Linked DNA regions of Homo sapiens: regions 2, 3, 4 and 5 are each linked to region 1. The links come from fine-mapping of genetic effects on gene expression. A gene starts in region 1. Each other region holds a variant in brackets. All regions are shown on one strand. Distances are from middle to middle.

Region 1 (6,074 bases):
AAAGTACTGACAACATCTTTTGCTATAAATAATAAAATCTTATTTAGGATTTATATAGAGTCTTCCTTCTGCCTTCATCCACCATACTAAAATGGCTAAATCCTGTTGATTCTACCTTTTAGATCTCACTGTAATGTGTCCCCTCCTCTCCACTCACTCTGCCCCAGTACCTTGGTTCAGGCCCTACTTCATCTCAACTGAATTACTTGAGATAGACTTTTTGATTGGCCTCCCTGCCTCTTGTCTAACCTCCACCTTGTCCACCCAGGAACTAGTGCTTGTTTTAAAACAGAAATCCTACCCTGTCACACCCCTAAAACCCTCTAGGGGTTTCTCATCATCTGTAGGATAACATCCACTTTCCTTAGCTTAGTATACAAAGCCTTTTGTGATTTGGCCCACTTCTCCTGCCTATCTCTTGCTGCTCAATGTTTCATATTTCAATTTTGAGGGAAATCAGTGGCTTATAATTCCTTTAACACACCAGGCAAGAGAGTTCTCGATAAATGCTTGTTAAATGAATGAATGAAATACCTTATGTAGCTAGGGTGACCATTCAATCTGCTTGGCCCAGGATGGCCCTTGTTGACATTTGTCATCCCAGTGTAATTATTAAAAGTGTCCCTTTTTTATCATCAAACTTGTCTCAGTTAGATCAATAAATTCTAAGGTCATCCTTATTACAGTGGTTATCAAATTGATTTCTAACTCTTTCTTTGTCTCCTCTACTAGATGGTGAGCTCTTTGAGGACAGGAGTTCATTTTTATATCCTCGTTTATTCATTCAACTAAGAGACTGATGCTGTAAGGTGCTTAGGGTATGATGTAGAATGCAACAAACATGGTTCTTGACTTCATGAAGTTTACAATCCAGCAGGAAATAATAATTTAGTGGAAAGAATAGAGCCTAACATAATAAATGCTGGTGTATGAATGAATGATTAAACATGGATTAGAAGTTCCTCAACAGGCCAGGCGTGGTGGCTCACCCCTGTAATCCCAGCACTTTGGGAGACCGAGACAAGCGGATCACTTGGGGTCAGGAGTTTGAGACCAGCCTGGCCAACATGGTGAAACCGTATTTCTACTAAAAATTATTTGGGCATGGAGGGGCATGCCTGTAATCCCAGCTACTTGGGAGGCTGAGGTAGGAGAATCGCTTGAACTCGGGGCGGAGGTTGCAGTAAGCCAAGATCACACCACTGCACTCCAGCCTGGGCGAGAGAGTGAGATTCCATGTCAAAAAAAATAAATAAATAAAAATAAAGTTCCTCAACAAATAATCCTGATATCACGAATTATAGAAATAGTTGTAAATGTAGAACTCTAAGTGATCAAATTAACAATTTATTTAGAGTTGCCAATTAAAATTTTAAAATACCAACAGCACACATATACATAAACATACTTAATATTTAGATGCTACCTTAATGTTAAACATAAGTAAAAAGGACAATGAAATAATAGCAAGAATGAGATTTTGAGTCTCATTCTTTTTAGACAATTTATAATCCTATGTGGTTCTCTGTAAAGTGGATTATCAGTGTGTACTCCATTTCTCCCCACCCTCCCTTTTTTTTTTCCAGATGAGAAATCTGAGGTTTTAGACACTTAACTACAAAACAAAAGAATGACTTTTTTTTTTTTTTTTTTTTTTGTCACCCAGGCTGGAGTGCAATGGTGTGATCTCGGCTCACTGCAACTTCCGCCTCCCGGGTTCAAGCGATTCTCCTGCCTTGGCCTCCTGAGTAGCTGGGATTACAGGCGCATGCCACCACGCCCGGCTACTTTTTGTATTTTTAGTAGAGACAGGGTTTCACCATGTTTGTCAGGCTGGTCTTGAACTCCTGACCTCTTGTTCCGCCCGCCTCGGCCTCCCAAAGTGTTGGCATTGCAGGCGTGAGCCACCGCGCCCGGCCAGGAATGACTTCTTAAACCAGGATTTGATTTTGGTTGAACTTTGCTTTCAGAACTAGAACTACCTGCTATCCAAGACTTGTTAACCACGTTTTCATGGGCAAATTACAAAACCCTTTCAACCCCAGTTTCCTCTTCTATAAACTAGTGGTAATATTATTATCTCCAGAATTAATCTTAGGAGTAAATGAAATTATGTAAAGGCATTTAGTCTCATAACCGGGCTCCTAGAAAGCACTCAGGAATGTTAGTTCTCTATCCATTTCCCCTGTTTATCTTTGTGTTTGATGAATTATAGGATGATATGAAATGATCTGAAATGAACTGTAATATAAACATCAATAAAACACCAATAAAAAATTTTATTCTCACATCTGGATGCTATACTAGGCCTTCACCTCCTCCAAAAGTTACAGTTTTATTAATATTCATTTATTATTTATTATTATAGTCAAAGACCCAGAGAAGCATTCCAGGAACAAAGCAGCAGGTAAGATTTTTCTGGGAAAAGACAGAGATTTTGAGGGACCCAGGATTTGGGGGTCATTTAAGCAGCAGTGGATGTCAGTCTTCAAGCTTTGCCCATTTACTCTTGGTCCCTTTTGGTTCAGGAAAGGAAGAACAACAAGCACGAAACCATTCACTGAGACCTTTGCGGGTGGGGGAGGAGGGATGTAAACAAAAGCCAACGCTCTCTTTAGTTCACAATGGCTCGCGACCCCAAGACTTCCAAGCTCTTTGGTGAGGGCCAGCAGGTCTGTTCTCCAGGAGTGCCCTGGGTCTGGACTTCATTTCCCAGAGTCCCTTAGTGCCCTAATGTATTCAGTGCTCAGAGTGCCTGTATGTGTGTGAGTGTGAGAGAATGTGTGCGTGCGTGTGTGTGTGCGCGCGTGTGTGTGTCTCCGAGTCCCTGGGAGAGTGGAGGCTCATTCACTGATTAGATCCAGCGCTGAGAGGCAGCACTGCTCCTTCTCTCACGCCAACTGAGTCTCTTGATCTGTACATGCAATCCCAGGCAGCTCGCGAACACAAACCCGGGGCCAGCCGCCTACTGCTGCTGCTGCTGCTGCCGCTGCCGCCGCCGCCGCCGCCGCTGCCTCCGCCGGCTCTGCGAACCCGGGACTTTTCATGCACCACACTCTCCGCCTGCTTCCCTCCGTGTCCTGAAAAGTGCGACCGTTCTCCCAAGGAATTTCCACGGCAAGTATGGAGATCAGAAAGGGGTGTGGACGTGTGTGCGTACCCAAGAGGGGTGGGTGCGAGGGCGGCCGGCTTGTTCAGGAACCTGGCTAACTTTCCGGGTCCGTTTCCTAGGGATTCGGGCGGTTCCCTCTGGACGGGGGCAGGGACTGGGACTCGGACTGGCGCGTCTTGGATCATCGCGACGGAGCCTCTCGGCATCGGCGCCCTGCGCGCTCCGTGCGCTGCCTCGCTCAAACTTTCCGTCTTGAGTTTTCCTTAATGTGTTTTATTTGGGGAGGGGGGGAGGTGCAAGGGGGAGGGACCAGACGCGGGAATTGGACAAGTTGGGAGGGTGAGGGCACTGCAAGGGAAGGGAGCAGGACTTCTTTTCTCCGTCTCTTAATAAGCCCCATTCCCACTTTGTTCGGGTCGATATCGAGAATGCCTTCTCGCCGGGCTCTCTGGTGCACCCCCCGGTGATTTCCGGGCTCCCCTATGTACCCCGCGTTGATTTCCGGCGAGGCCAGGGCTGGGTGGTACTCAGTGGGGAGCCCGAGGCGGCGGGCGGATGGAGAAGGGGCGAGCCGAATGAGAAACTACCCCGACAGCCTCCACCCCACACACAGCCGGCTCCGCGGGATACCCGGGGAGTGGCTGTTTAGCCCTGGACCCCGGGTGCTCGGCTGACTTTTTCCTAGCGGGGGCGGGTGTGAAGGGTGTGGAGGGAGGGAGGTGGGGTAGGATGGATGGATCCTCTGCGGGCAGGAAGGAGGCAGGTGCTAGCATAGAGGCGGACCGTTCTAAACGCCACCGGTAAACTCCCCACTCCTCTGGGCTGGACCGGCCTGGCCGTAGAGTAGCCCGACACGTGGGATCTCCCGGGATTTTCGGGGTCGGGACCCCCTCTCCCAGCGGTTCTACTGAGCAAGGCGGGAGGACGATCGTGGAGACGAGGGCTACTTGACTACTCTACTTGTAGTTTTATTTTTATCTTAGACCTGCCTTAAACTGAGTAACAATTTCTCTTCTGACTTAAGAACAAAACTTTTCAGTGAGCACGCCGGTCGCTGCGGTCCTGCGGCCACTGCCGCCGCGCTTGTCAGCCCGGGCCGAGCGACCTTCTCTGCCCGGAACCCAGCCCCGCCACCGCACTCCGGAGCCTCCGGCCTCCCCCACCCCACCCCCGCCCCCCAACCCGGGGCTTTTCAGGGCTCGGCCTGGGCGTTTCGCCTTTGTGCTTTGTAAGAGAAAGCCTTTTCTTCCAGGGCACAACAAACTTGGGCGGAGAGCTTCCGTGTGGCCCCCCGGGCGAGGCCGCCCACGGTGGTGAGGCCATCCGAGGGGATGCCCGGTTCATCCCCCAGTCCAGGAGCCTCTCCGAGAGCTCGCGGCCCAGGTCGACCCCAGCTGGCGAGGGCGCGCAGGAGTCCCGAAGTAGCGGGGACTAGGGCAGCCAGGAGGCAGGGGGAAAGCTCTCGCTTCCCGTTAAGCACACCCTGCATTCTCGGGTCGTGGATGCAGCTCCAGCGGAGAGCCCGTGTTCCGGCCCTGAGCCAGGCGCGCGTCGCACTGGGTGGGTGCATGGGGCCCGGGCCATAGGTGTGGGGGCACAGCCCTACCTGGCCGGCCCGGGTCGTCTGGGGTCTGCGCCGGCCCACTGGCCCGGGAGCCGCCGAGGGGGAGAGCACCGCACTCGCTGCCCACGACGCCCAGCAGCCACATCTTGCCTCTCGCCTCCGCTCCGGACTCGGCTTGAGGGGCAAAGGGGAGAGAAAGGAAAAATAAAGAAAAAAAAGGGCGGCAGTGAGGAAGCAGCGAGGGGACTGGGGGGAGCAGAGTGGGCAGGGGGGCTTTGCCTTGCCTGGCCTCCTCTTTCCGTCTCGCGGGCTCTTCCTGCAAAGGGGAATGAGCAGAGGGGGGAAAGGCAGAAAGAGCGTCGAGGAAGAGCGGTGCTGGCGTCTTCCGTGCCGATCCCTCCTGGCCCGCAGAGACCCGGCAAAAGTGGCGTGAGTTCGCTTGCTGCGCTTCGAGGCAAGGCTGGGGAAGGCCGAGGACGGGGCGGCGCCGCGTCGCGCCGCTGGTGGCCGACAGGGCCGGGGCCGGGCGCGGAGCGAGCGGGGACACACACCTGTTCTGCGAGCCGCGCGGTGTGCGGCGGCCGGACGGCCGCGGTGCGGGCCGCAGAACCCTCCCTCCCGCACTGCGCATCCGCAGTCCAGGAGCTGGAAGGGCCCGGCAGCCCCGCGCCGGTCCGTATTTGCAGGAGAAGCGGGAGTGGAGGAGTCCGCGGCTGCCCGCTGAAGCGGTGGTGCGCGCGGCGGCGGGACCCGGGTGACCCCCGGGGCGGGGCTGCTCGGGGGCTGGAGGTCCTTGGACTTTGGTCGAAGGCTGGCAGCTCTGAGCCCCTGCCCCGCGGGCCCCGCGCGGCTGCGGACCAGGGGCCCTTGCACGTGTCGGTTCTTCCTGGACTGGCGCTTTGGTTGCCCAAAGTTGGGCGCAGATTGTTTCGTGCGGAGGTTGTTGGGACCCAGAGTATTCTATATACAAAGGCAACCGAGAGCCGGAGGGAGAGGTCGGGCCAAAGAGTAGTGGGCTCGGCTCCGCGTTGGGCCCAAGTTTATGTAGGTTTCGCCTTCACCTCTTCTTCCCCCGTTTTCCCTAAAAGAGTTGATTTTTTTTCCCAGTCGAGACTCTTCCGAGCTGAATAATGCACCCGCTCGCTGAGCCAGTATCCCGCGACCCCGCACTCTCGGACTGGCCCGGGCTGTCTCGGATTCGCACCCTTTGGCCAAGCTGGGCCTGAACCCGGGTCCAAATCTGGGACCATACCCGGCCATGCCTGAAACACAGGCGTCGGCCCTAGCCCGGGAACTGTGTTAGCCTTATGTTCCCTGAGCTCTCGCATATGGTGGTAAAATTTCTGTTAGAGCGGTGTTTCCAAATACCCCCTGGGCATTTGGTGTGCGGGAATTCTC
Region 2 (6,074 bases), 770 kb after region 1:
CGGGCATGGTGGTGTGTGCCTGTGGTCCCAACTTCTTGGGAGGCTGAGGCAGGAGGATTGCTTAAGCCCAAGAGTTCAAGGCTGCAGTACACTATGATCATACCACTGTACTCCAGCCTGGGTGACATAGCAAGACCTTGTCTCAAAAATTATAATCATCACCAATTTAAACAATTTGGTACTACTAGAGGAAACGTTACTTTTGCATGAATACATAATAGGTCCACAACATATGAACTGAATATATTAGTCTCAATAACGGAGCTACTGCTCTGGTACAGCACCAACTAAATAATTTCTCTTTAAGTCTGTACATTAAAAGTGTGATATTACATAAAAGGCAAGAATGGATGTTACTAAGGCAATAAATATTAGTGTCACACACCAAATACAAAACCTATGTCTGAATTTTCTTATAGACAGAAAAGGAAACAATTTCAGTATATAATTCCTAAATTTAACTGAGTTTTTTTCATTCTTTTCAATCTCTATAGGACTTAAGTTATCCATGCATTTTTCACTGTGCATAACTGAACAGTGATTAAGATTTTGAACACAGGAGCCGGGCTCTAACCCCAGCTGCCCCACATAACTATATAAATTTGGACTAGTTTCTTATCAGGGCCTCATTTCCTCATATGTAAAATTGGGATAATAATAGTACATACCTCAAAAGAATATTATATGGATTACATAAATTATAACATGTTAAATATTTGGCAAAGCGCCCAGCACTTTGTGTTAGCTTTTAATATTGTTATTATTGTTATGCAAATAAAAAGTGAAACTATATTAAGTGGCAATATTTACACAGCTTTAAAAGACTGTAAATTTATATAACCAATAAAGACATAATTGCTTAAAAAACTTTAGCTTATAATCTGAGTAGGAACCAAATATCATTTAAAATGAAATTAGATGAGTTACGTATGTTTGTACTGATTATAATTTAACCTTTAAAATGAACATGAAGGCTGGGTGCAGTGGCTCACGACTGTAATGCCAGCACTTTGGGAGGCCAAGGTGGGTGGATCACTTGAGGTCAGGAATTTGAGACCAGCCTGGCCAACAAGGTAAAACCCCATTTCTACAAAAAATATAAAAATTAGCCAAGTATGGTGTCATACACCTGTATTCCCAGCTACTCAGGAGGCTGAGGCAGGAGAATTGCTTGAACCCGGAGACAGAGGTTGCAGTGAGCCAAGATCAGGCCACTGCATTCCAGCCTGGGTGAGAAAGCGAGACCTTGTCTCAAAAAAACAAAACAAAATATGAAATAAAACTAAAACATTCAAAAGTGATCTTTTAATAAAAATAATTGGAGATTTTTAATGTAAGCTAAGAAAAACATATTCTCTTAAACAATTCAAAATAAATAGGTAATTGGAGGAGTACTCACTATTAATCAAAGTTCATTCAAGTTCATTATCAGCTCAGTGAGGTGGCTCACACCTGTAATCCCAGGACTTTGGGAAGCCGAGGTGGGCGGATCACTTTAGGCCAGGAGTTTGAGACCTGCCTGGCCAACATGGTGAAACCCCAACTCTACTAAAAAAAAAAAAAAAAAAATTAGCTGGGCATGACACACCCAATACAAAATACTCTCCTACTCGGGGAGCTGGGACAGGAGAATTGCTTGAACCTGCAAGGTGGAGTTTGCAGTGAGCTGAGATCGCGCCACTGCACTACAGCCTGGGCCACAGAGCAAGATTCTGTCTCAAAAAAAAGAAAAAGATTATCATATTTATCCCTTTTTATTTTGAAACAATCTCAAACTTACAGAAAAGTTGCAAGTACAGTTCAAATAATTTTTAAATGAGTTATTGGAGAGTAAGTTGTCAACGTACTGCCTTATCACCCCAGAATACTTTTTTTGTGTATTTCCTTCAAAGATATTCTCCTACAGAACTATAAAAATCATGAAAATCAGAAATCAATACCATAACATTATCATATAATGCACAGGCCCCATTCAACTGTTGCCAATTGCCCCAAAAATGTCCCCATAAGGATCCAGTCCAAAGTCATACAATGCATTTAGTTTTTATGTCTCCTTATTCTCCTTCAATCTGGAACCACCTGTAGTCTTAACTTTCTGACTTCTGATACTTACGAAGACTTCAGGCTAGCTATTTTGAAGAATGTCCCTCAGTAGTGCCTGTTATTTCATCATGATTAGATTCAGGTTATCTATCTTTGGCAGTAATATCATAGAAGTGGAGCCATGTTCTTATTGTTTCCTATCAAATGGCACACAATTTTGATTTCTCCCATCACTGGTGAGGTTAACTTTGCTCATTTGATCACAGTAGTGTTTGCCTGGATTCCTCACTTTAAAGTTACCTTTTTCCCCTTATAATTAAAGTATCTCATGGGAACCATATTGACATTATGCCAATATACTCATCAAATTTTCAACTTACTCTTTCTAAAAATATTTTATTTTGGAGACAGGGTTTCATTCTGTCGCCCAAGCTGCAGTGCAGTGGAGCAATCCCAGCTCACTGCAGCCTTAACCTTCTGGGCCCAAGCGATCCTCCCACCTCAGCCTCCTAAAGTAGCTGAGACCACAGGCATGCACCACCATGCCCGGCTAATTTTTTAAAATTTTTGTAGAGACGGTGTTTTGCCATGTTGCCCAGGCTGGTCTCAAACTCCTGGGCTCATGTGATCTTCCCTCCTCAGCCTCCCGAAGTGCTGGGATTATAGGCATGAACCATGGCACCTGGCCTTTAAAAAAAAAAAACCATTGACACAATGAACTCATGGGTTTCTATTTCATTCAATGGGTTGGTTATATCCATTATTATCATTATTTTGACACTCAATTCATCCCATATTTGGCTAATGGGAATCTCTTCAAAGCTGGCTTTTGTATCCTTTTTGATGTGTTGCTATAATTCTTTAAGAACCTCCCTGCTTTCTGGCACAAGAACATGTTCAAGGCTCATTTGATACTTTCTCTGCCTCACCCCTAAATTCAGCCATTTCTCCAAGGAGGCTTTGTTCCTTTTATCGGAGAAAAGTACTTGGAAACCAAGATATGGGCATTAGGTGTGCTTATTGCTATTGGGATATTACTGCTCTAAGGCCCTCTCAGTTAACTGAATGCCATATATATATATAATATATATTATATATATATTCCAATATATACTAAAAACCATGAGTTCACGTGGGTATCTCCAATTACAATCCAAAACCCAGAGTTCATTCACCTTTTCTCCCTGGTCTTTATCTTTTCTTATCTTATTTTATTTTTCAGACGGAGTCTTGCTTGTTGCCCAGGCTGGAGTGCTATGGCACAATCTTGGCTCACTGCCACCCCCACCTCCTGGGTTCAAGCGATTCTCCTGCCTCAGTCTCCTGAGTAGCTGAGACTACAGGTGCATGCCACCACACCGAGCTAATTTTTCTATTTTTTAGTAGAGACGGGGTTTCGTCATGTTGGCCAGGCTGGTCTTGAACTCATGACCTCAGGTGATCCACC[C/T]GCCTTGGCCTCCCAAAGTGTTGGGATTACAGGCATGAGCCACCGCGCCCGGCCTGGTCTACATTTTAGCTACTTTTTCTGATAGTGAGAAATTTGGCTCCTGTTATCCTTAATTGATTTACTTAGTTGATCAATATCTATAAATAACCAATCTTTCATTGCCACCACAGCTCCTCCCTGCCAATAAGGACATTCTTCTCACTGTGCTCAAGCTCAAAAAACCTGCACCTACTGCTGCCACCCCCTGCTATGCCCACTTCACCCCATCTGAACACTAACACCCTATGGCTCTACACTCCCCTTCACCCCTATACAAAAGTCATCCTCAACCCTTTCAGACTCTGACATCTCAAATTATATCCCCCTTCATGTGGATACCCTCCTCACCCCACTTTGGCTCTAGCACCCCATGCTAGGCCACTGCTCCAGTTGGGCTCCAATATACCCTTTCAGGCCACTGCTACTATCCCTTCTTCCCATCTCACTTCCTTTTCTCTTGCTTCTCCCAGGTTTGGACTAAAGTTTTCAGGAAGGGAAGTCAGAAGAAAAGGGAATGATTAAGGATTCAGGAACTAGAGAGAGGAGGGAAGAGAAGAGCAGTATCATTGTATGACACCTCATAATTAGCTATTTTGCTATACAGTGATTATGTTTCTAAAACGTATGCAGAAAATAAGGAATAAACACTAAAGAAAATAATAGGAAAGAAGAAAAGAATATGACACTGAAAAAGAAAAAAATTTCTTAAATGTACTGAATGCTTGTTCTTATTTATTTTACACTTCCAATCATTAAGAGTTGTTATAGACTCTAACAAGGCTATGAACTATGGCCAACCCCCTTTTCCACATTGGAACTGAAAAACCTACACCATATACACAGGGAATTTAAGGTACTTAAGTTTGCAGGTTATACAGAGTGGTAACAGCAATAGAGCAATTTCTACAATTCCTACAACCCAAACTGTGAAATCAATAATGGTGAAAGTTACAGAGGGGTATGCAAAATATACCTTTAATAGCAAAATATTTCCCAGGTCTGAATCTCATGAAATGAAAGATGGGCATAAAAGGGGATTCTCTCTGCTGCTTTATAAGACAATTCGGGGAGATTGAGCAATCAGTTGCTACTTGATACCAAGCAGTAACCAGCTCTATGACACATCCTTATGTTGCCTTACCCTCCTTCCCTGTCTCATTTCATTTTCTCTCACTCTTGCTTCCCTGGGATCATATTCTTTAATAACACAATAGCACATTAAAAAGCATTTCCCAGTCTAATGCAAGCAGAAAAATCCCTTAATACAATGCATTCTATGGCACAAACAACACTGAGTTTTGTGACTTGATAAGGACCAAGGATTCCAGATTGGAAAGGAAGATAAAAGTTTATCTCTATTTGAGTAATAAATTCATTCCACAAGGGTGTTGGCCAGGCTGGTCTCAAACTCCTGATCTCAGGTGATCTGCCTGCCTTGGCCTCACAAAGTGCTGGGATTACAGGCGTGAACCACTACACCCGGCCTTATGTGATTTTATCTAAGGGACTTAAGCATCCTCAGGTCCTAGGGGGTTGTGAAACCAAAACCCCACGGATAGCAAGGGACAACTGTATCTTCAAATTAGACAAATGGCGCCGGGCACAGTGGCTCACACCTGTAATCCCAGCACTTTCGGAGGCTGAGGCAAGCGGATCACCTGAGGTCAGCAGTTGGAGACCAGCCTGGCCAACAGGCTGAAACCCTGTCTTTGCAGAAATGAAGGGATAGCTGGGTGTGGTGGCGCATGCCTGTGGTACCACCTACTCGACCGACTGAGGCTGGAGAGTCGCTTGAACCTGGGAGGTGGAGGATGCAGTGGGCCAGGATGGCGCCACCACACTCCACCCTGGGTGATAGAGTGAGACTCCGTCTCAGAAACAAAACAAAACAAAAATTAGACAAATGCTACATTAATGTTTGGGTGGTCAGATTCTACTTTGAAGTCTGAAGTTTGCAGATATGCCTATAGATTTTTGGAGTTTACCACTTTCCTATTCTGTATCATTAATGTAATATCTTAAATTACTATATATTTGACCATTTTTCTGTATTTAGTAAGAAATTTGCATTTCTGATTTGATATAACAAAAGTTTTAATGTAATTTATATTAGATTTTGCATTTTTTATCACTGTTATACTTTAACGTAAATGACTGATTTAATTGTATTAGTATTGTGAACAATCATGTGGAATGTTTTGAGACAGAGTACTCTATTGGTGAATATAATTTTATGGCTTTTTTCACTTAGTAAGAACCTTTCTATCAGTGTGGAAAACTAAGAAAACTGCTCTCTGCTGTATAATCTGGCATTCATTGTAGATTAAAGCTTATTTTTCTGTGAATAAAACATTCAATAAGATACTATTTAAAATTAAAATAAATAAATAAATGAATGAATTCCACAAGGTTAGGGGTACAAGATCAACATACAAAAATCAGTTATATTTCTATCTATATACACTAGCAACAAACAATTAAAAAATGAAATAAAGGAAACAATTCCATTTATGATAGCATGAAAAAGAAAAAAATATCTTAGGAG
Region 3 (6,074 bases), 230 kb after region 1:
CAAAGCTGCCGCTCTCAGTTTCCCCGTCTGTCTAATGGAGGTATGGCGCCCAGCTCTTGCCCAAACCTCTCTAAAGGCCCTGAAGAACCCTGGGGGGGCAATAAGTGCCGGAGAATGAGGAACGAGCTACACAATTCTACTCGGGAGCTCAGCTTTGAATTTGCAAACTGCTGGGACCTCACTATACAAACCTGCAGGGCGCTGAGAATGTTTTTCTTCCAGTTTTTAATCAGTGCCCAGTAGTGTGAATACAGCCCCTCTGCTGAGACTTGACAATACAGTGAGATCTGGAGTTCCCACGGCAACAGGAACTAACTCATCCCAGGGCTCTTTGAGTTATCAGTCGGCCCACATTTCACAAAGGTGATCAGCGTGGGCTCGACAGCTCTTAGAGGCCTTCTCTGAAAGCAGGCCGTGTATGCACTACCTAGCAGCCCCCCTTTTGGATTCAAACCTCTGGAGCATTCCTGTTTGCTGAATACAATTGAATGATCCTAGCTTTTTGTGCTTACTGGGGTGTGGTATCTGGGGGGTGGCTGTAAGGGGTTTAGGGTCTCTGGGTCAGCTGGTAAGTGAGAGAGGCCATGGAGTTCAAGATCCCCAGCTCTTATCACTTGGTTTCTGCTGCCAGGCTGAGCCCTAGTCTGGAAAAGGGAGAAATTCATGATGGGCTGGCGCCATGTTAAGCACCATTCTCACAACGCCTCTGAGAAGAGTATTACACACCTTTTGTGAATAAGAAAACAGGCTCTGAGAGGTGAAAGTGGTTTGTTTAAAAGTACACAGCTGGGATGTAACTGAGCCATGATTCAATTGAAGTTTGTTTCCCACCAAAGCCCGTGTTTCTCCAACCATGCCATGCTACCTCCTTGGCAAATGCTTTGATTCTTCCTACTCGTACGTAGCCTCTGGATAGAGAACAGAACTTTCCCTACCACACTTTGGTAAGCTTAATTCAGGATTTAGAAGATGAATGGGAAGGTGAAAACCAAACCTGCCTTCCTTCTCTGAGAATTTGCAGATGAAGCCCAGTCCATTGGGGTGCTTTCCAGGGACAACAAGGGATCATCTGCTGGCCTGTGTGTCCTGAGCAAGGAGCGCATCCAGTATTGTGCCTTTCTTGACCATTCCATGAGATTCGTTTCCTTAGTCATTGAACATTGTGGTATCATCAGCACCTTCTTCCCCAGGGAGGCATTCCCTTGGTGTAGGCATGGTAGGGAGGAAGCTTTGTGTTGGCACACTGCTCCTTACTACACTTCTAGAACTCTCAGGGTCCTTTGCTCAATGCCTTTCTGATGTTTCACGTCCATTCTCCATCCCAGCCCTGGCTCTAGAGTGTCAAGGCTACCTAAGTCTGAGATTCCAAGAGTTAGGGCAGCCAAAATGAAGAGTTCTCGATCTGTGTCCACAAAGTCAAGTGAGGCACTAGGACACAGTCATGTCACCTATAGTGAAGACACAGGAAAGTGAAGAGATGGACTGGGCTACAGACCAAGTTTCCTCAAACTCCATGCCCAGTTCTGGCAGGATGGTAGCTTTCCTTTTGGTTTGGGTCTTTCTGGGGTTGCTCTGTTTTGGAGTTGGAGTAGCTCCCTGCCTCAGGCTCACAACAGGCAGGAGCTGGAGCCCTAGCACACTCACTGGGACCAGTCTTTGTTGATGCTGCTCAGTTAGGAGGTCCCCTTGAAACAGGAGGGCATTCTAGGTTGTGAAGTCAGTTCTGGTTTCCTATCTTGCCTTTGCCACTTTTTAGCTACTTGGACACGTACCTTGATCTCTCTAAGCTTTGGGTTTCTTCATCTGTTAAAATGGGATAATGCAATCTAGCTTCAGCAAGTGGTAGTAAATGAGCTACCTTGGGTAAGGTACTTGGCTGTGAGCCTGACACACGGTAGAAGCTTAAATTGTAACATAGCAGCTCTCACCTGTGTTCCCCTCCTAGATTGCATTCATGAGCTTCCCGTTAGGGTCACTGTCCATGAGAAAGTTCTTCCTGGCCCTGCTTTGGGGAACCTTTCCCTCCTTTGCTGGCTCTCCCCACTCCCCATCAGTCTGGTCCCAGAGTAGCCATCTCTGATCCTGCTGTGGCATTCTGGAAGGGACTAGAGGGAAGAGAGTTTCTTGTTTTGACCCCTTCCTGCTTCAGTGACAGGAGGGCTACAGAGAGGGATTAGTGAGCTAATTAGAAATGATTGCATTGCTCAGCATTAATTAGCAGTGTTGTGGGCTTGCAGTGTGCACTTTGGAACTGAGCCCCCTGTGGGACAACATGGCAGGCAGCCCTCTGCCTCCAGGGCCTGCCAGCCCCTCTGTACTGATTAGAAATGATGGAACAGGTTCGGGTGGGCACAATAAGGGCTGCCTTCTCAGGGTTCCCTGAGCCTTCTGACCTGGCTGCCAAAGGTCTGACCCAGACCGTCTTACCTTTATGACTGGGCCTCAGTCTCCTCTTCTGTGAAATGGGATTAGTGGACCTCAGAGAAATTCTTCCTGATAAGATTCTAGGTGGGATGCTAGGAGCTGTACCTCAGGGCTCTTGGCCCAGGAACCAAAGAGGATTTAGCTGATGAGTGAACAGCAGGCCAAGTCAGGCCATCGGAGGGGTTAGGTTCTAGTCAAGAGATGCTCTTTAGAGTTGTATTTCCTGACACCAAAAGAGTTCATGGTCTTGGCCTTCTGGAGAGATACCTAGCAACATGGAGTGTCTTTGCTCACTGGATTTTTATTAAACACTGCAAATAGAAAGGTATGGGTAGACCTTGCACCAGCTGCAGCCAAAGAGTGGACTTACTCACTGGCTTAGTTAGCACCAGTCTCCTCCCCAGGTGCTCTTGGCAAAGCCCAGTCCCCAAAGGAGCAGGAGGTATTTCAAGATGAGGGCCAGATCAGGCACTGAATAAAAAGGCCAATGGCTGGCAAGAGGTCAGGATGTGTCAGCTCCACTGGGACCCTGGGGGCTGCAGTGACCGTCTGCTTGTTCTGTGCTTTGTTTTCGGTTTCCCCGTGCAGCTCGGATTGGGAAAATGAAACGGAGGAAGCAAGATGAAGGGCAGGTATGTCCCCTGTGCAACCGCCCCCTGGCAGGATC[G/A]GAGCAGGAGATGAGTAGGCATGTGGAGCATTGCCTTTCTAAGGTAGAGGGGCCATCACCACCCACCTTCCTTCCCCGCTCCCTTCCCCCGACACTAGCTGCTGACTGCCCCTGAATCTGTGGGCTCTTGGGGTCTCCATGTGGTCTCAGCAGCTTCTTCCCTTCTGACCACTGCTCTCTCCTTTTGCTTTCACTCTCACTCATTCCCTCCTTGGGCTCCAGCGGAAAACTATTGGGAAGAGGCCCAGGTCTTTGACCTCTAAATTGGTTTGCTTCAAAGGAGCCCTAGAGCTGAGGGCCCACTTGGCACACCACAGCTGGGGCTAGAGCTGTGCCTTCGTTGCAGACTGTGGGGAGCAGGTGGGGATGGCCTGGGCCCAGCATGATCCTGCTCTGCTCTTCACAGAGGGAAGGCTCCTGCATGGCTGAGGATGATGCTGTGGACATCGAGCATGAGAACAACAACCGCTTTGAGGAGTATGAGTGGTGTGGACAGAAGCGGATACGGGCCACCACTCTCCTGGAAGGTGGCTTCCGAGGTACAAGCAGCTGACACGTAGACATTGGCACTCTGGTGCCAGGCCTCTGCTGGGTATCCATCTGCTGGAAGCCAAGAGGCCGAGGCTGGTGGCTGGTCATCCATCCGTTCCACCACGTGGGGACTGCTGCTGGTGGGGCTCCTTTGTGACCGTGCTGCCTGCCTGTGATGTGCATATTAAAATGGATGTATTTGGGTGGGGAAATGGAATTGTGAGGCTGCAAGCTAGGAGTGACGAAGGGGGGCTCTCAGCTTCGGGTGATGCATTGAAGGTGACAGCCAAGCCGCGTTAGCACCTGCATAAAATATTAAAGGGACGGTTATGCATTTATCACTCCATCCCTCTTAAGGCTGATAAATGAGAATCCAGCAACCTGCTGTACACCTCCAGCACTGGGGGCCCTGAGGGCTTCCAGGCAAACACATTGGATTTTCCTCCTCCTCCTCTTCAGCCCTATGTCAGGGAAATCAGTTACAGAGGAGAGTGAGTTATGGCAAAATTTGACCTCCCATGAGCTTCATTGGTGAATCTAATTTTAGCTCTGATCCCATCCCTTCTCCCTGGGCGCCCTCTGCCCTGAAGCAAGAGGGGCCTGGGCCCAGCTGCTCCCTCCTTCCCTTGGGCTCTCCCCAGTTGCTACAAAGGAGTGTGCAGGGCCCTGCCCATCTCCAGTGCCCTCCCAGCTCCTTGGAAGAGCAAGGCTTGACACCCCCCACCAGGTCAGACAGCAGAATTGGTTGGGTGCCCAGGGTTAGTGACTTGTTAAACTCCCCAGCCTTGGGCAGGGGAAAAGGGGAGCTGTCTGCCTCTTGGCCTCCAGCTCTTCTCTCTTTCTGTGCACAAGCACAGCTGGTACTGCAGCTTGTGGTCATTAAGTGAGCCAATCTGCTTCCCGTCTGCCTCTCTCTCTGGGCAACACCTTTGGGAATACTGCTGTGTATGGTCCCTGGGGAATCTCACAGCAGCTGGGAAGAAGTTCTCTGCCTTCGTGGGGCCGTGCTACCTGGGCAGATGCTGAGGAGTGGTCTCTGCAGGGCCGTCCAGTGCAGACTGGTTCCACGAAGGGGCTAAGAGCCCAGATGAGACATTATGCCTCTGGGCGTCTCTCACATTACCCAGGTGTTTGGGGGCAAGCCAAAACATAAATCAGGAAGGTTAGTCAGACCAAACAGTCTCCCTGAGCCGGAGCTGGAGAGTGTTAGTTTGCCATTTCACTCATCCCGTACTGGAGCCTTCGAGTATCTGAGGCCCTAGAAGAGTGAGCAGCAGGGCTGACGACTGTCCCATGAGTTGGACACATGGGTGTCCGATGGCAGCCACACAGGGTCAGTTTCAACGTGCTGCTCTGGTTAGCTCTGTTGGCAGCTGCAACTGCTCACATCCTCCATTGCTGTGGCACCTTCTTAGGTTCCTTGGCACAGACCTGGACCTGATGGCTTCTGGGCACCAGACAGGGCTTATGGAGGATAAAGCTGCAAAGGGCCTGCTGATTTGACAAGAGTATTTCCCCTGTGCCGGGATGCACTTGCACAGCAGTGTGAGGGGCTCTTAGGCCCCGGGCGGGTATCCGTTTTCCCTGAGTGTTTACACTGTGAGGTTGTTCCTTTCAAGAATTCCTGAGGGGAGTTCAAAGGGGGCTTTTCTTTGAGCGATTTGGAGAGCGAGAATGAGAGTGAGACTTGAAGAGGGAACAGGGGCCGGAGGTGCCTTTATCTGCAGAGAATTGCTCCAGCTTTCCTGATAGAAGCTGCTGCCGCCTCTTAAACAGCTTAGTGCAGTCAAAAGACAGGCAGACTTGAAAGGCTGTTTTACAGCGAGATCAGCGGGGGCCACGAGGCAGAGAGCGGGGCGCAGTGGAGCGGAGGAGGCTGAGGCTCCTCAGTGGGGGGGCTATCAAAGGGAGGCCCTGGCTGATCCCTACTGCCTCTGCCCCCAAAACCCTGTCTGCAAAAGCTGGCCATCTGTCAGCCTACCCTCCCTGGCCAGGACTGATAGGCCCTAACTCTTGGGGGGTTGGGTGTGGCCTCGCCAGGCGGGCTGGTGTCAGTGCAGCGCATTGATCGCCCGCCGGGCGGGCCGGGCTGCAAGCCGGGCAGCGCGTGCTTAATGTGATTGAAAGGCAGTTAAAATGGCGGTGACCTTTTCAGGAGGAATTAGATTGCCTGCCAAGACCGGTTAGAGGGAGTGATAACGCCAGCTGAAGAAGCTGCCCAGCAGACTTCAGAGAGAAGGAGGCAGAGGCAGGATGAGCAGGCGAGTGGCGAGGCCCATTTAAACTGCGCTGTGCGTGCTGACAGAACAGAGATTGCTGTCGTTGTTAGATATGAAAGAAGTGAAGAATTGCAGATAAGTTCCTGTATCCGATCACCCCCATCCCTCCTCCCAGAGTAGGGCCTCTTCTTCATCCTCAGCAAAGCTTCCCACCAGGCCCCTGGAGGTTGGTC
Region 4 (6,074 bases), 99 kb after region 1:
GGGCCTGGGGGCCCCATAGAGGCCCCTCGATTTGGCCAACTGAGCGGGACCCAGCACAAGGCCTCCAGGCTGCAGAAGGCTGTGGGGGTGGGGGTGGGGGTGGGGGTATCGGGAGACAATAGGAGAGCCCAGAGCCAGCTCTCCCTTTCCACCAGCCCGAGTGACACAGTGACACAAAGGGAGAGTCTTGTGCTTGGGGGAGGGGGTGGGGAGAGCCCTTTGTCCCGCTATTTTCTACATTGCTGGGGGTGGGGAGTGGGAAGGGTGTGGGGGGGTGACCAGCGGCTGTCAGTATGGGGAGGAGTAGAGAGTGGTGCAGAGGCCCTGGAAAGTTTTTGAATTTCAATCAGGTTGGCTTTGAAAGAGTTTGGCTTTTGTTGAAAGAAAGAGAAAGGTTAATGCTAGAGTTGAGGGGGAGGGGGTGGATTCTGCAGATAGAGTCCTGTTTGCAGGCCGGTCAGCTGTGGGACACCCAGGCTGGCAGAAAGGCTGGGGATGGGTGAGCAGAGGAGGAGCAGGCGTCCCATTTCCCTTCCCGGGCCCAGGTGGAGGAAGGCTGGGCAGAGAAGCATGGGGTTATTGGGTGTGGGCAGAACTGGTCAAGAAAGGAAAGCAATGCGGCCAAGCAGGACAATTTCTTTCTTCCTTTTGCATGCCTTACAGAGCCTTTGACTTTTTAAGCCAGGAAAGAATGAAGTTCCCTCCCTCTCTCCCCTCCGTTTCTACTCCACCCAAGCACAGCGGCGGCGGCAGAGCACTTGTCAGGGCTGACTTTGTGACAAGTGCAGGCTTGGTTGGTGCAGGAGAGGGGGGCTGGGTGGCTTGGGACCTCTTAGTGCTCAGGAATCAGCTGTTTTCTCCGCTCTTACCCTCTGCTGACCCTCCTCTGCACTCTAATTGCTCCAAAAAGAAGCATAAAAATGTGGAGCTATTATACTCTTTGAAATAGGCAGCATACTGCTTTCTCAATGTTGGGAGAAAAAGAAGGAGGAGGAAGGGAGCTACAGCCACGCAGCAGGCTAGAGATCTGCAATTCCAAGTTGGGGAGTGGGCACCTGGCATTCCCCAGCTGACTTCACACCACTGAAACACACACACACACACACACACACACACACACACACACACACACACACTTTGTAAGGCTCCTGGCTGCAGTATGATCCTTTGTCTCTCTCTCTCTCTCTCTCTCTCACACACACACACACACACACACACCATACACGCTCACACACACACATACACTTTATGAGGCTCCTGGCTAAGGCTGCCGCATGATCCAGTGTTCTGGGAGTCCCAGTGTATTCTGGGAGTCTACTGGGGCAGTCAGTTCTCTAAATGGCACCACTGTGTGTTCTCAGCTCTAGGGGTTCTACAACCATAAAGATAACTCCAGAACCAATCCCTGAATTCCAGCCTGAAAATATTTGAGAGGAGAAAGATCAGAGGAAGAGGGAAAGAGAATATAAAAATGGGATTATTCTTATTTTGACATGTAATAACCATCTGCATGGTATTAGGCCTCATCTTCCTGGAGCAAATATTCATGCACTAAATAATTTGCTCAGCATTCCTTGTGTTAGACATTGTGCCAGGCCCTAGGAGACACAGAGGAAATAAGAGCTGTCCCTGCCCTGAAGGAGCTTATTCTTAAACAGAAAAGCAAATGGAGAATAAATAATTCTAATCCAATGAGATAATATCACACATGCCACACAATACATTGTAACATACATCACATTTAACTTCATTTGACAAGCGAATACTACAGAAAAACGTGTGAATTATTATTATTATTATTATTAAATTATTATTTTAGAGACAGAGTGCTAACTCAGTCGCCCAGGCTGGTGTGCAGTGATGAGATCGTAACTCACTGCAGCCTTGACTTCCTGTGCTCAAGCGATCCTCCTGCTTCAGCCTCTCCAGTAGCTGGGACTATAGAAGCACGTTGTCATGCCTGACTAATTTTTTCTATTTTTATTTTTGGAGAGATGGGGTCTTGCTGTGTTGCCCAGGCTGCATTTTTTAAGATTTCATTGATATTTTTTACTTTAATGTTGGGTGCATTTGAAGTGTTTACCAAGGGCCAGGCGCAGTGGCTCACACCTATAATCCCAGCACTTTTGGAGGCCTAGATGGGCAGATCATTTGAGGTCAGAAGTTCGAGACCAGTCTGGCCAACATGGTGAAACCCCGTCTCTGCTGAAAATACAAAAATTAGCTGGGTATGGTGGCACATGCCTGTAATCCCAGCTATTTGGGAGGCTGAGGCAGGAGAATCACTTGAACCTGGAAGGCAGAGGTTGCAGTGAACCGAGATTGCGCTACTGCACTCCAGCCTGGGTGACAGAGCCAGATGCTGTCTCAAAAAAAAAAAAAAAAAAAAAAGAAGCGTTTACCAAGGAAAGCATTTTGGAGGTGAAAACGTGTCCCACCAAGCAAAAAGAGGATTGGACTCCAAATGCAGGCCAAGGGAAGAAAGAGGAGAATGTCCATGTGTGCATACATTAGTGTGCTGGGAAGACCTCCATGCCCACACTGCCCTCATCCAATACCACATTAAAAGTATTTTGCTGGTTTACTTGTCCATCTGATTTGCAGCCACATATAATCTCAGACACCCCCTGTTCCGCCCTCTGCCACATCACCTCCCACAGGAGAGAAACAGCTATCCCAGGCCATTCTGTTCCCCTTTCAAGGCCAGATCTGAGGTGAAGAGAAGGCATTGAGAAAGTTAACCCAAGGAAGAATTTTAGGCTAGTGTTTTCAAAGCTTGGACCAACAGCATCAGCATCACCTGGGAATTTAGAAATGCAAATCCTCAGGCGCCACCCTAGGCCTACTGAACTGAAAGCTCTGGGTGTGGGGCCCAGCCATCCGTGGGTTGTTTTTTGTTTTTTTTTTAGACAGAGTCTGCTGTTGGCCAGGCTGGGGTGCAGTGGCACAGTCT[C/T]GGCTCACTACAACCTCCACGTCTTGGGTTCAAGCGATTCTCCTGATTCAGCCTCCTGAGTAGCTGGGACTACAGGTGCGTGCCACCATGCCCAGCTAATTGTTTTTATTTTTAGTAGAGATGGGTTTCACTGTGTTAGCCAGGATGGTCTCGATCTCCTGACCTTGTGATCCACCTGCCTCAGCCTCCCAAAGTACTGGGATTACAGGCATGAGCCACCGTGCCCGGCCGCCATCCGTGTTTTAACAGGCTCTCAGATCATTCTGATGCTCCGTAAAGTTCTAGGTATGCTGATCAATGTTGCCACCCTTGGTTAGATCTTCCTGATGCACTTCAAAAATAACTTGCTCTGGTAGAAGCCAGGGGGCTAATGGGGGCCAATCCAGCCCAGCACCTAAGTCTTTTGGTTAGTTCTTGGGCTAATCTGCCCAAGGATGTGGATATGAATGGCTGGGACACGGACACTTTTAAGGACCCCGTTATCTGGGATGTCTGGGCCCTGACCCTTCTGAGCCTTGACTGGCCCCCTGTGCTCATATTCAGAGCATGGGACCTGGCAGAAGTTCGAGGGGCTGATCCAGTATGGCAGGTCCCTTTGAGAGTCCTCTTAGGGATCCGGGTTTGTGACAGCACATGACACGATTTGGCTCTCTGGAGCTTCTGGGTGGGCGGGTATAATGAAAGGATGGTTAGAATTGGAAAGAGCAGTGAGGGAGAGAGCAAAGTCCCCTCTTCCATATCTGATTTTGTAAGCAGCTTCTGATACCTCAGTGACAAGATCCCAGCACCTGTGTCTCATTGGCATCAGTATCTTTTTTGGCACAGACCGAGAATCTCTTTTTGGAAAATTCCCTTGCCAAAAGCACGTGACCATATCTGTCTTAAGAAGCTGGCACCTATCCTTTTTTTCAAATTTGTCTCTGGCCTCTCTTCCCTCTCCCAATGTTCCCTTTCACCTTGAGCTAGAAACATGTGGTATCCTCAGGGCCATTTCAGATTGATGCAACCACATCACTGGTTCTGACCTGTAAAAGTAAAGGCTAAGAATTCCTTTCAGAGGGGAAGAAAAACTATCATGAACTAGACATGAAATAGCCAAGCACTGTGCCCCTCGCTTTCCATGATGCTCCTCATTTATCGTTACAGCAACCCCATACACTATATGTTACTTCCCCCATTTTATAAGTAAGGAAGCTGGAGTTGGGAGAGTTTGTCCCTCGTGCAGCATCACACAGCTTCTAAGTGGCAGTCAGGATTTGAACCCAGATCTGCCTGACTTCAGAGCACGTGTTTGCTGCTCTTTACCACACTGTATCAGGAGAGATCCTCTAGGTCCTGGCTCCCTCCCAGGCAACCCCAAGGAAACAGGACTCTGGCCAAGTCCACGAGCTTTGTAGGTCCTGGCTGGATTCCCTCTTGGTTAGACTCTGGTCAGGCCTTCCCTGATTTCTCCTGGCCAGCTGGCCTCTCCGCCTCCTTGGCTCTACGTGGGCTCCTGAGGGAGAAGGCAGAGTGAAGCCACCAGGCCTCTGGACAGGTTGCAGTCAGCATCCGTTCCATCACGCGTTAACCCCTGCGGCTGGCCCGCAGCAGGGAAGCCCTCTTGCCTAGCTCTGCATGGACTGCTCGCTTGCCTGAGTTTGCATTATTTATTTAATGTCTTGTACCGTAAATAATGGTAACTTTATGGTTATTAGGAACGGGTTAAGGTACATGCGGGTAGCACCAGGCTGCCTTCAAAAGGAACAGTCCTGGCATAAAATGTTGCGATAATTGCTTCACTGCTGAGTGTTGGTCTTTATTTTGTGTCTGATTTGTCCCTTAAGCCAGCGTAACATTCTCCCCACGGCAGGAGAATGCAGAGAGCAAATTGAAGGGCTGAGCATGAACAATGCGACATGGCGCACTGCTGGGTTTTTCTTTTTTCCTCTTTCTTCGTTTCTCCCTTGACCTCCCTCCAATCCTCTCCGCTCCCCTCCCCCCATGCCCTGCCCCAGTCTCCGCCCTACTCTGGTTGGGAGAATCATTCTCCCCCATCCTTGACACCTCTAGAAGGTAGCCCATCATACCCCCTTATTTCCTTTTGTTGAAAATAAGGTTAATAGAGCACTCCTATTCCTTACCTCTTCTCTGGGCAGCAAACAAGACAAAACAAAAAGATAAACACATAAAAGATGCCTTCTTTTCATGGACCCGGTGCCCAAGCAATGCCCAGGCACTCTAGCCCAGAAGTTATTGTCCCTTACATTTCTTAAAAGGATGTGGAATCCTGGCCAGTGCCCAGCATCACAGTGGTCAGAGAGGGCTGGGTATGCAGAAGGACTTGGGAGGGTGGCAGGGTTGCTGGTGGCGGGTGTGGAGGGGTGAAGGGGGCAGAGTCTGCCAGCTCCTTCCTGATAGTGGGAGAGAGCGATGGTCTTCAGTGGCCAGTGGGACTCTTCCTCTTCTCTTCGGTCCATCACACCAAGGCAGGAAGGCCACTGGCACTGGCCGCCATGTGCCATACACATATTTCCCTTGTCTGCACAGGAGTGGAGTGAGGGCAGGGGTGGGGTGAGGGCCTCTCCACTCGGGGCAGCCTTTTGGTTTGCCAGAAGTGGATCCTCCTGGCCTTCATCTGTTTGCCCCTGGGGGTCATCTATCAGCCTCCAGCAATACCCTGCAGGCCGGATGGCCCAAGCCAAGTGAAACCTCTTCCCTGTAGCAGAAAGCAGGTCCAGCATCTCCCAAAACGGGCGCTCTGACTGGCTGGGCTTCTTCGATGTTCAGAGAGCTTGGCCAAAGCACGAACACTGGAGTAGGAGCCAGAAGTCCTGTGGTCTTGTCTGAGCTTCCCCACTGACTTGCCCGGTGTGGTAAATTCATAGACACAGAAGTTCCTTGGAAACGTTCTGCCTCGGTTTCATCTGTAAAATGAGGGCAAAAATCCCTGCCTTATGGGATTATTGGGGAGATCAAAAGTAGCTAATGAGTGACTACAGACTCCAGAACCAATCATAGATTGTTGATCACGGAGTCTCAAATAACCCATCATGCCCTCAGGCCAAAGGCCAATGACTATTTCTGGGTAAGTATGAGAAGCAGGTGGGACTGGAGGGGCAGCTGGGGTGGTACAATGACA
Region 5 (6,074 bases), 260 kb after region 1:
AAAAACTTTTTATTTCAAAGGACATAATCCAAAAAAAGTGAAAAAAAGAAAAACCCCACAGCATGGAGAAAATATTTGCAAATCATGTATCTGATAAGGGAGTAATATCCAGAATACAGAGAAAACTCCTAAAACTCAACAGCAAAAAGTAAACCCAACTCAAAAATTGGCAAAGGACCTGAATATATTAAGCAGGTCTTTCTCCAAAGAAGATTTACAAATGGCCAATAAGCACATAAAAACATGCTCAACATCATAGCCATTAGGGAAATCAAAATCAAAGCCACTATGAGGTATCTCTTTATACCCAGGATGGCTATAATTAAAAAGTCAGATAATAAACAAGTGTTGGTTGTGGATGAAACCAGGACCCTCATACACTGCTGGTGGAAATGCATAATGGTGCAGCCACTTTGGAAAACAGTATGGCAGATCCTCAAAAAAATTAAATGTAGAGTTACCACATGATCCCACAATTTCACTACTAGGGATACATCCAGGAGAGCTAAAAATATACATCCACATGAAAACTTGCCCATGAATGTTCATTGCAGTCATAATAACCAAAAGGTGGAAACATACCTCCTATCATCTGTGAACAGATAAGCAAAATGTGATACATCCATACAATTAAATACCATTCAGTCATAAAAAGGAATGAAGTACTAATACACGTGATAGCATGGATGAACCTTGAAAACATCATTCTAAGTGAAATAAGTCAGATACAAAGGGGCACATATTATATGACTTCATTTATATAAAATATCAAGAATAGGCAAATCCACAGAGAATGAAAGATTAGTGGTTGCCAAGGGCTGGGGGGAGGAGGGAATGGAGAGTGACTACTAACAGGAATGGGGTTTCTTTTTCAGATGATGAAAATGTTTTGGAATTAGATGGCAGTGATATTCTTACAATTCTGTGAATATACCAAAAGCCAGTGAATTGTACTTTTTTTTTTTGTTTTGTTTTGAGACAGGGCCTCACTCTGTCACCCAGGCTGGAATGCAGTAGTGAGATCATGGCTTACTACAGTCTCAACCTCCCAGGCTCAAGCGATCCTCCCATCACAGCCTCCTGAGTGCTAAGACTACAGGCACATGGTACCACACCTGGCTAATTTTTTATTTTTTGTAGAGACAGGGTCTCACTATGTTGCCCAGGCTGGTCTTGAACTCCTGGGCTCAAGCAATCCTCCCACCTTAGCCTCCCAAAGTACTGGGATTACAGGCATGAGCCACCGCGCCTGGCCAGAAGTACATTTTTAAAGGGTGGATTTTATGGTATGTGAATTATTTCTCAATAATGTTATTATTTTTAAAAATAATAGTAATACATTAAGTGAAAACACAAGTTATAAAGCAATATCATAACAGAATACCCATATACACACACATACTACACAAACGCACACTTTTTTTGTTGTTTTTTTTTTTTTTGACAGTCTCACTCTGTCGCCCAGGCTGGAGTGTAATGGTGCAATCTCGGCTCACTACAACCTTCGCCTTCCAGGTTCAAGCGATTCTCCTGCCTCAGCCTCCCTAGTTGCTGGGATTACAGGCGCCCACCATCATGCCCGGCTAATTTTTGTGGTTTCAGTAGAAACGGGGTTTCACCATGTTGGCCAGGCTGGTCTCGAACTCCTGACTTCAGGTGATCTGCCCACCTCGGCCTCCCAAAGTGCTGGAATTACAGGCATGAGTCACCGCGCCCAGCCATGTATTTTTTTTAATGCATAGAAAAAAATACATCAAATATTAATAGCAATTATTTATGGGATTAGAGGCAATTTCTTTTTCATGATTTTTTTCCCACTTTCTAAAATCAGTATGTATAACTTCTGCAATGAGAGTTAAAATATTATCTCAAACAACAGGGGAGGTGGTCCAGCAGAGTCAAAAGCAGTTGAGAAGTCAAAGAGGCCAGGGATGCCCAGAAGCCCCTCAGCAATGTGGAAGGATTCTTTTCAACCCTAGCACTTCTCGAGTACCCCACAAAGCAATTTAATCTCACAAGCTCCCTGTCCTCTAGAATTTCTCAACAAATAACACTGACACAGATAGTGCCAGAATTACAAATACGTATATTGTACAACAGTTCAAGCCATAAAACTCAAGCATAAATTAGATTGTGTATACCCCAGGGGCATATGGGGAAGACAAAGGAATGGGCTGATAAGGCATAAGGGTCTGCAGTACAATATGTACTTTTTTATTTGCAAGCCAGAATGAAAATAGAAACCATGTTTTCTTTTTAAAATGCAAAAAATTGGCCAGACTTGGTGGCTCACGCCTGTAATCCCAGCACTTTGGGAGGCCGAGGTGGGCGGATCATGAGGTCAGGAGGTCAAGACCATCCTGGCTAACAGGTGAAACCCCGTCTCTACTAAAAATACAAAAAATTAGCCGAGCGTGGTGGCGGGCGCCTATAGTCCCAGCTACTCCGGAGGCTGAGGCAAGAGAATGGCGTGAACCCAGAGCTGAGATCGCACCACTG[C/T]ACTCCAGCCTGGGCGACAGAACGATATTCTGTCTTAAAAATAAAATAAAATAAAAATAAAAATAAAATAACATGCAAAAAATTGAAAGAGTCTTAATTTTCTCTACTCCCCAGAAAAACTTTCTAGTGTCTCACAGTTCCTATATTTAAATCAAATTTTTCTTTTCTTCTTTGAGACAAGGTCTTTCTGTGTTGCCCAGGCTGGAGGGCAGTGGTGTAGTCATGGCTCACTGCAGCCTCGAACTCTTGGGCTCAGGTAATCCTCCTACCTCAGCCTCCCAAGTAGCTGGGACTATAGGCAAGCACCACCATGCTCAGCTAATTTTTGTATTATTTTGCAGAGGTAGGGTTTGGCCATGTTGCCCAGGCTGGTCTCAAATTCTTGGGCTCAAGCAATCCACCCCCCTCGGCCTCCCAAAGTGTTGGGATTACAGGCGTGAGCCACTGTACCCGGCCAAATTACTTTATTTTTTATTTACTTTTTAAAAGAAGAGCAGAGCAGAGTAGCATAGTATCTAAGAGTACATACTGTACAAAATCATATCTCGGTTCAAATCTCTGCCTCTGCCACTTAATAACTATGACACAGACCTTAATCAAGTTCTCTAAGCTTCAATTTCCTTATCTGTGAAATGGGGACAATGATACAAAGAATTAAATATGATAATAGCTATAGAGGGCTTATCATGGTGCCTGGCAGAAGGAAAGAGTTCAATAAATTGAAATTATTATTACTTCACAAGTAATGCATACTCACTGTAGAAAAAGTAGAAAATGAATATCTAATAAAATTGGAATCATATTGTTTGTAATCTGCTTTCTTCCGTTTGGCAATATATTGTGAACATTTTTCCCTGTCAGTTTATATATTTCTACACCATTATTTTTAGTGGCTTCAGAGAGGCTATAGAATGTTTCATAATTTATGGTGACCAAATCTCCCATTATTGGATATGATGCTGTTTCCAATTTTTTGCTGTTATAAAAATACTTTAATGGACACCCCTTTCTTTGTGCATGTCCCTAATTGTTTCCTAGAAATGGCATCGTATTCAGGCAGCCCCTCCTAATGGCAACTGAAATCTCGGCATGCACAAGCTCTGGAGTAAGGCTCTTAAGCTGAAATCTGGAATTACTTTGGGCAAGACACTTTACCTCCCCACGAGCATCTGTTCTTCATCTGTAAAACAGGATTAAGGGTTCTCCCTACTTCACAAGGTGGTTGTGAGGATTAATAAAATAATGAAAGGAGCTCCTGGTGGGCCTGGCATGTGGATAGAACATGGTTAACAGTGTTAAGTACCACAGACATTCAGAGAAAAGGAGGCCTGCAAAGAGGCCTGGATCTCAAATCCAGGGTCTAGTACAGCACCAGCACCTGGCATAGAGCAGACACTTAGAAAGCATCCTATTTTTTTTTTTTTTTTTTGAGACGGAGTTTCGCTCTCGTTACCTAGGCTGGAGTGCAATGGCACAATCTCGGCTCACTGCAACCTCCGCCTCCCAGGTTCAAGCGATTCTCCTGCCTCAGCCTCCTGAGTAGCTGAGATTATAGGCATGCGCCACCACACCCGGCTAATTTTGTATTTTTAGTAGAGATGGGGTTTCTCCATATTGGTCAGGCTAGTCTCGAACTCCTGACCTCAGGTGATCCGCCAACCTCGGCCTCCCAAAGTGCTGGGGTTACAGGTGTGACCCACCACGCCCAGCCAGAAAGGGCTCTTATCTAGAGGTGAAAGAAAAGAGATCATGATTCCAAAAATAAATACAACTCCTCTGTATTAAAAAAAAAAAAAAAGACCTTTGGGGTCCTCGTAGACAAGACAAGGATCAAATCCCAAACGACTCTCTTCACCTGGGTCTTTGAGGTCTGTCCATCATGACAGATCTTCAGGTTTTCATCTAATTCTCCACCCACAAAAGCACAGCGCGGCCTCCTGCCAGGCCCCTGTTCCCTCCAGCCACTCACTGTCCCCCTTCAGGGATTTACTTCTGCACTTTCTCCCATCCAAGTTCCAAGCAGGCCTGACACTGCTTAGCTTCTGAGATCTGCATGTTCAAGGTGGTATGGCCATGGACTTGACTTCCACACTTTCTGCTGCTCACCATGGGGGTCTGTCAGCCCTCCTGAAGCTTCAGGTCCAGCTTGGGCTGCTCTACTCTAGGAAGCCTCTCCCACCACAGGGCCCACCATGGTGGTCCAGACCCTTCAGCACTGTCTCCTGGGTGTCCGAGACAACTTCCTGAGGGTTAAAATGATGTCTATATTTCTTTGACCTCAGCCAGTGATGAGCAAAAAAGGCATGCGGTAAAACCTGGGGAGCAAAAACCCCCTCACTTCCCCTCTCTGTGATCCCCTTAAGACCTTCTGTTTACTTTAAGAGCAAAATGTTTGTCCCATGACCAGGCCCCAGACTCATTAATTCTATGAATGAATTTTTCTTTATGTTTACTGAACATGAGAGCCACACGGTGCCTTTAAGAAGGTTGCTGGCCTATGAGCAAGTCACAGAGGGGATCTAGGTGGGACTTGGCTGACCATTCTCTGGATGGGAGGAGGGGTGGCACGGCCTGGGCCTGGGATGTCAGAGCAGCTCTGGCTTGGGCCTACAGTGCTGCCAAGTGATTCCATTCAGCTCACTTGGTACATCATCCCTCCCAGGCCCTGGTGACAGTGAGTGAAGCCATCAAAAACACGACAACAGGAAAATATAGTGCTTATGGGAGCCCCAGGAGAGACCCTTCCCAAATGAAATGAAGTAAGAGAGGGTATTGAGAGACTGAGGGGATCACTGGCCTGGGAAAAAGAGAGGGAGGAGGGAAGACAGATTCTGGGTCAAACGACCGGCTTTAGCAAAGGCCTGGGCAGACGACCATCGGTGTGGGCAGCCAATAGGTACTGGCTGGTAGGATTCCCAGCAGAAGGATGTTGGGCTGCCAAGCCTGACCTACAAGGCCCAGGGCTCTGAATGACCCCAGATCTGCAGCTGCCTTCCAGCTAGCTAATGTGCCAGCATCAGCTTCTCTGTCAGCTCACAGCAGTGATGGGCTCTGTGGTTTCGATTTTTCAAATACAGGGGAAAAGTAATTTCAGGCCAGGTGCAGTGGCTCATACCTGTAATCGCAGCACTTTGGGAGGCTGCGATAGGAGGACTGCTTGAGCCCAGAAGTTTCAAACCAGTCTGGGCAATACAGTAAGACTCTGTCTCCATATAAGAAAATGAAAATTTTTTAAACTGAAAAAAAAAAGTGTTTTTAAAGGCTGGGCACAGTGGCTCACGCCTGTAATCCCAGCACTTTGGGAGGCTGAGGCGGGTGGATCACCTGAGGTCAGGAGTTCAAGACCAGCCTAACCAATATGGTGAAACCTTGTCTCTACTAAAACTACAAAAATTAGCCAGGCATGGTGGCGGGTGCCTGTAGTCCCAGCTACTTGGGAGGCTGAAACAGGAGAATTGCTTGAAGCCAGGAGGCGGAGGTTGCAGTGAACTGAGATCGTGCCACTGCACTCCAGCCTGGGCGACAGAGTTAGACTCCACCTCAAAAAAAAAAGTTTTTAAAAAGTAATTTCAGAA

Alleles and levels. Alleles are on the strand shown, and positions count from the first base shown. SD is a standard deviation of normalised expression in the study named. Not every link is listed here.
As copies of T replace C in region 2, the expression in skeletal muscle of the gene that starts at base 2,846 in region 1 goes down (large effect, 1.0 SD a copy in FUSION).

Evidence for each region. PIP is the estimated chance that this variant, and not a neighbour inherited with it, causes the effect.
Region 2: its variant is fine-mapped to the expression of RNF220 in skeletal muscle (FUSION, PIP 0.95).
Region 3: its variant is fine-mapped to the expression of RNF220 in whole blood (TOPMed, PIP above 0.99).
Region 4: its variant is fine-mapped to the expression of RNF220 in lymphoblastoid cells (GTEx, PIP 0.97).
Region 5: its variant is fine-mapped to the expression of RNF220 in monocytes (TOPMed, PIP 0.93).

What each region holds. Positions count from the first base shown.
Region 1 is chr1:44,402,410-44,408,483 of GRCh38, forward strand. It overlaps RNF220 (ring finger protein 220), which reads left to right and starts at 2,846. Exons shown (of 15, transcript NM_018150.4): 1 at 2,846-3,121. RefSeq lists enhancers at 3,739-4,261, 6,028-6,074.
Region 2 is chr1:45,173,021-45,179,094 of GRCh38, forward strand. The region is part of intron 1 of ZSWIM5 (zinc finger SWIM-type containing 5); the gene reads right to left. Among named protein-coding and RNA genes, the nearest start is that of ZSWIM5, 31 kb to the right of the region's middle. The variant C/T (reference allele first, on the strand shown) is at 3,491.
Region 3 is chr1:44,632,533-44,638,606 of GRCh38, forward strand. It overlaps RNF220 (ring finger protein 220), which reads left to right. Exons shown (of 15, transcript NM_018150.4): 7 at 3,013-3,056; 8 at 3,498-3,630. LOC107984950 (a long non-coding RNA gene) reads right to left here. Exons shown (of 2, transcript XR_001738031.2): 2 at 2,706-3,925. Among named protein-coding and RNA genes, the nearest start is that of SNORD145, 35 kb to the right of the region's middle. RefSeq lists enhancers at 75-164, 234-781. The variant G/A (reference allele first, on the strand shown) is at 3,092.
Region 4 is chr1:44,500,965-44,507,038 of GRCh38, forward strand. The region is part of intron 2 of RNF220 (ring finger protein 220); the gene reads left to right. Among named protein-coding and RNA genes, the nearest start is that of MIR5584, 41 kb to the right of the region's middle. RefSeq lists an enhancer at 5,535-6,035. The variant C/T (reference allele first, on the strand shown) is at 2,954.
Region 5 is chr1:44,665,888-44,671,961 of GRCh38, forward strand. All of the region lies in intron 1 of TMEM53 (transmembrane protein 53), which reads right to left. SNORD145 (small nucleolar RNA, C/D box 145) reads right to left here and starts at 5,169; the gene lies at 5,070-5,169. The variant C/T (reference allele first, on the strand shown) is at 2,500.